Linked DNA regions of Homo sapiens: region 1 is linked to region 2. Evidence: fine-mapped expression QTL. Tissue or cell type: whole blood. Region 2 holds a variant in brackets; the other region holds the start of a gene. All regions are shown on one strand. Distances are between the middles of the regions. Region 1 holds the start of SLAMF8 (SLAM family member 8). Region 2 overlaps LOC124904436 (a long non-coding RNA gene).

What was found. PIP is the estimated chance that this variant, and not a neighbour inherited with it, causes the effect.
Region 1: SLAMF8 starts here. The variant in region 2 is the best candidate, but not a certain one, in a credible set for the expression of SLAMF8 in whole blood (INTERVAL, PIP 0.63).

Annotation. Positions count from the first base shown.
Region 1 is chr1:159,825,125-159,828,045 of GRCh38, reverse strand. SLAMF8 (SLAM family member 8) reads right to left here and starts at 1,173. Exons shown (of 5, transcript NM_020125.3): 1 at 1,108-1,173. The coding sequence starts at 1,147.
Region 2 is chr1:160,011,818-160,014,738 of GRCh38, reverse strand. All of the region lies in intron 3 of LOC124904436 (a long non-coding RNA gene), which reads left to right. Among named protein-coding and RNA genes, the nearest start is that of PIGM, 19 kb to the left of the region's middle. The variant A/T (reference allele first, on the strand shown) is at 1,413.

The sequences.
Region 1 (2,921 bases), 190 kb after region 2:
CCTGGTCAACATGATGAAACCCTGTCTCTACTAAAAATACAAACATTAGCCGGGTTTAGTGGCAGTGACCTGTAATCCCAGCTACTCAGGAGGCTGAGACAGGAGAATCGCTTGAACCCAGGAGGCAGAGGTTACAGTGAGCTGAGATGCACCATTGCATTCCAGCCTGGGTGACAGAGCAAGACTCCGTCTCAAAGAAAAAAAAAAAAGGCAAATTATTTTTGTCTCACCAAACAGACCAAGGCCTTTTTTGAGGTTAAGGTGTGATTTCCTGCACATGTTTAGAAATATTGAAGAAATCTGCAGGCTTTGGAGCTCTCAGGGCCAGGAACTCAGGCAAGGAGATGAAACAAAGCAACCCAAAGTCCCTATGAGCCTCTGATGTAAACAATATCATCTTAATCTTTGCTGCACCCCATAAACCCTCATCCATGGCCCGGCAGTGTTGACCCATGTCATGTTGGCTGCTTGTTGACCAAGGAAGGGAACTCAGGCATCAGATGGATAGAGGGATCGCCCGGTGTGGAGGAGACCCCGTGTATCAGCCATCCCAACATCACACCACCGTCGGCCACCCCTAAGTCCACGTGGGCCACATTTAGCCTCTCTCATCCCTACTTAGTACTTGCCTCCCCTTATAAAGGCCTGTAGGGAGGGACCTCAGCTCCCCCACAGGCTGTTGAAAACACACTCTGCTGATTGTGGGGAACCCTGCTCTGCCCTGCCCTCTGCTACTCTCCTCAAACTCTGCAGAGTTTCTGCATGCTAACACTGCCGGGTCCTCACCATTCTCACAGCCGACTTTCTCTCCAAACCAGCAGTATCACCCACTGGCTCCGTTTTTACTGCTCTGGGCCACAAAACAGCTCATGTCTCACAGATAAGAATACCCCTCAAGCTGCCACCTCCTCCCTCCCAGGACCCTGCATCTCTTTGTATCTGCCTAGCTTAAAATGTTGCCCAAGAGCTTGTTCTAGTCTTTCCTACCCACCCTCAGCTTCTGGGTTCTCACCCAGGTCGAGGGATCCCTGCCCAGACGTCTGGCATAGGCAGCTGGGGAGGGGCCTTCAGCTCTCCGAGGACAGGCTATCTGCCTGCCCCACTTACCTTCCCAGAGAAGCAGACTCCACAGGGGCCTCATGACCATCTTTCTCTGGAGAGGCAGGCAAACTCCCTCGACAGCCAAAATCCAGAACCTCCCAGGCCGAGTGGATGCACGGGAGGAGCTGTGGTCCTTCTGGAAAGTCCCATGTTCAGAAGGAGGAATCTTGACTCAGAACAGGATGTCCCAAAAGTGAAAACATCCAGAATAAAGTGGAAGTTGTCCCTGGGCCTCTCTGGGCTTACAGGAGCAGATTCTTGTAAGTCAGCCTCTTTCACATGCACATGGTTGGCTAACACGTGGCGACAACAGCCCCCACACAAGCCACATCCTCCTTGCTGGATCTCGCTGGCCTTCCTGCATCTCAGCCTGCCTCACTACTATCTGTCATCCTCATTCTAGCTTAAAATGCTTCTGTGGCCTCCCGTGGACCTGAGGATGAGGACTAACTCTGCTCTGCATGCAGGCCCTCCTGAGTCAGGCCTTCTTCTCCAGGCTGGTCGCCCACAGTCATTCTGCCCTCCAGCCATCCCAAGCCAGAAGGCCTCCTTCTCAGAACTACTGATTTCACACTTCCCTGTGTTGTACTTTCCCCACCACCCCGACTAGGCATGCTGCTCCCTCTATCCTTGCAAACAGAACATGGCTGTGCAGTCGGCGAGGACATCCTTCCAGGCTTCCTGACCACAGGCAGGTGAGAGGCCCTCTCCTTGTGTCCTGTGCATGCCCACACCTCCCTCTTTACTCTTGCTGTGTTGTTGATGACAGTTTTCTGGTTTTCACAGACTGTTTAGCCAGTCTTTTGTTCCCTTCTGTGTTGCCCTCAGTGCTTGGCACATTACAGATGTTTCATGAGTATTTGTTAAGTGAGTGAGTACATTCTAGACATGGCTACACATCTGGCTTTATGTAAGCCTTGCAACTCTCCTCTGAGAGGATCATCTTGTTACCTGGTTAGAAATGGGAAAATGTGAAAACCAGAGTGAGGTTAGGCCCCTTGCAGAGCTCACAGAGAGGCAGAGCTGGAACTTGAACCTCAGCCTTTGAAGTGTGGTCTATTTTGCCACAGTTATCCCCTCCTCATCCTGTTTCTCTTCTCACTTCAAGTTTCTTGGTTTCTTGCCAGTGAAGGTTTTTAGAGGACGTGTTGCCCCTGAGGAAAATTCCTGCTAGTCTGGAGTGTGGCTCATCGTATCTGGTCCTGCACAGCCTCTCGCCTGTCAATCAAACTGGACACTGAGCTTTGGACTCAGCCAGGAACTAGGCATATAGGATGGGGTGGGGGTGGGTGGTGAGCAGGAGGATTTTGGGATAAGGTTTTTGCCCTCCAGGTACTCACAACCAAAATGTAGAGATAGGTACACCAAGGAAAGTGAAGGGTTATCTGCAGACAGACACCACTTTGTGCAAACAGGTAGTCAGTCCTCAGAAGTGGGTGGGAAAGAGGGCTTCGCGGATCTGGGCAGGGGACGCTTCTTGAGAAGGTGGAATTTGAGCTGTGCCTTGAAGATGGGCATGGTTTAGATAATATGAGGAAAGGAGAGAGCCAGAGGTTGGGGGTGGGCTCTGGGCAGGAGGGGAGAGCAGAGCGTGCAGGGATGTGGCTGTGGGAAAATACCAAGTAGGCTCCACAGAGGACAAGGGACAGCAGACAGGAATCCTTTAGGGCTGGGTGGGAAGAATGGAAAAGGAGGTTGGGGGCAGATTGTGGAGGCCTTGAAAACTGGGTTAAGTTCTTCTGGAGACTAGTGGCTCTCAACTGTGTTCAGCACTTGGATTCTCAGAGATGCCATCAGGGTGAGCTAGGGCCCAGGAATCT
Region 2 (2,921 bases):
CCTTGTATACAGTATATTCCTATTTCCTTAGTCTAAACTTTGAGAAGTAGACTTGCTGAGTCAAAGAGTTCTGACGCATATTGCCAAATTTTTCTACAGGCTGAATTAATGTCCACTTCTACCAAAAATAAATGCCTTTGTTAACACTGGGTCTCAAAAACAATTTCAAAAATGTTTGTCAAATCAATAGGGAAAATGGTATCTCATCAGTGGTTTAATTTGTATTTATTTGATTACTTGTGAGGTTGAATGTTTTTGTCTTACACTTGTTAGCTATTGGCATTTCTAATTTAATGACTTGCTTTTCTATATCCTGTACTCAATATTCTCTGAAGATGCTTGTTATTGATTTGTAGGACCAGTATCTCTATAAATGGATATTGAGTCTATGTGTTTTAAATATTTTTTCTAGTCTGCCATTGGCCTTTTATTTTTTGATCTGAAATGGTTAAAAAATATATGTAATTTAGGCCAGTTTTTCTTTTTGTGATTTCTCTGTTGCTATTTTTAAAATGTTGTTATTGTAGACATTATTTTTTGATACATATTTGTATGTATTTATAGGGTACAAGTGCTATTTTGATACATGCATGGAATGTGTAGTGATCAAGTCAGGGCATTTAGGATATTCACCACCTCAAACATTTATCATTTCTTTGTATTGGGAACATTTCAAGTCTTCTCTCCCAGCTATTTTGAAATATACAAGGTATTGTTGTTAACTATAGTCACCTCACTCTGCTATCAAACTTTACAGCTTTTTCCTTTCGTCTAAGTGTTTGTTTTTACTCATTAATCAACCTCTTTTCATCCCCCCCATCCACATACACACCCTTCCCGCCCTCTGGTATCTATCATTCTACTCTCTAACTCCCTGCGATCAAATTTTTTAGCTCTCACATATGAGTGATTTGTCTTTCTGTGCTTGGTTTATTTCACTCGACATAATGACCTCTAGTTCCATCCATGTTGCTGCAAATAATAGGATTTCATCCCGTTTTTTATGGCCAAATAGTATTCCATTGTGTATATATACATTTTCTTTATCCATTTTCCCCTTGATGGACACAGTTTGCTTCCATATCTATGCTATTGTGAATAGTCCTACATTAAATATAGGAGTGCAGATACCCCTTTGATACACTGATTTCCTTTCCTTTGGATAAATACCCAGTAGTGGAATTGCTGGATTGCATGGTAGGTCTACTTTAAGTTTTTCGAGAAATCTTCATACTCTTATCGTAGTAACTATGCTAACTTACATTCCCGCCAACAGTGTATAACAGTTCCCCTTCTCCACATCCTTGTCAGCATTTGTTTTTTTCCCTGATAATAGCTATTCTAACTGGGATAAGGTGATATCTCATTGTGATTTTGACTTGCATTTCCCTAATTAGTGGTGTTAAGCATTT[A/T]AAAAATATACTTATTGTGTATTTGTATGTCTCCTTTTGAGAAATGTCTATTCCGATTCTTTGCCCACTTTTAATATAATTATTTGTTTTTTTTTGGTATTGAGTTGAGTTTCTTGTATATTTTAGATATTAGTCCCTTGTCAAATGAATAGTTTGCAAATATTTTCTTTTGTTATTTTTGAGAAAGCATTTCCCAACTTGAAATTATATAAATACTTTCCTATATATATATTTTCTACTGCTTGTTTAGTTCCATTTTTTGCTTTAAATCATTACCCTGTAGACTTTATTTGGTATAATACAAGAAGTAGAAATTTAATTTAATTTATTTCAAATGATTCACTATTCAAAGATTAATCAATTTTTTATACCATTTCACATTACTTCTGCTATATTTGCAGATTAATTATAAAGGGAAGCACTGATCAAAAGTTGCACACTGGAGGCCCATGGCCATATCTAGCCTATGAATATATTTAGTTCAGAATATTTTTGAATTAGTTATCTGCATCTAAAAATCAGAAAGTTTTATACAAGAATCTGTTTTTACAAATTCTCCTTAAAAATCAGAATATCTGGCAACTCTAGACTCACAGTCTCCCTTGACAAAAATGTGCAGGAGCTGGGAGGCAATTGCTTCCCATCATCAGGAAAGGTCCCCACCAGTGTACTTTATTCATTTTTGTTGTCTGCCTAATCCCTGAAGGCATTTCAGGATGCTATTAAGTTTTGTATATTTATTTTGCAATTGGACACATTACACGAATTCTCTAATTAGTACTAACTGTTTTGTGGCTAATTTTCTTGGGGTTTCAAGTAATTATATCATCATGCAAAAAATTATAATTTTATCTTCTCTTTCCAAAATATATACTTTCTAATTCTTTCTTCTCGCCTTATTACAGTTGCCTAAAAATTTCTCACATTTTGAATAATCGTTATGACTGTTAATTTTAACTTTAATTTTTAACATGAGGAGATTGAGAGATGCCTAAATGGCTGGTTTGTTTCTGGGTGTGTCTGTTTCCAGGAGAGATTGGTGGGTGAGTCAGTGGACTGAGAGAAGAAGACTTGCCCTCGATGGGGGCAGGCATTGTCCAACTGGTTGGGGGCCTGGTTGGAACAAACAGGAGAAAGACAGCAGATTCTCTGTCTCTGCTGTCTTTCCTCTGGAGTGGGAGGCTTTTCCTCCTCTTGCCCTTGGACATCAGGCTCCAGGTTCTTTGGCTTTTGGACTCTGGGACTTGCACCAGTGACCTCCCAGGGCTCTCAGGCCTTTGGCCCCAGACTGGAGGCTGCACGGTCAGCTTCCCTGGTTCTGAGTTCCCTGGTTCTCTTTAGCTTACAGGTGGCTGGTCGTGGGACTTTGCCTCTGTGGTCATGTGAGCAGCCAATTCCCTCATAAATCCCCTCTCATATCCTACTGGCTCTGTTTCTCTGAAGAACCTTGACTAACACAAGGCTCATAATAGCAGGCATCTTTATACGGTACCTAATTTTAATGGGAAT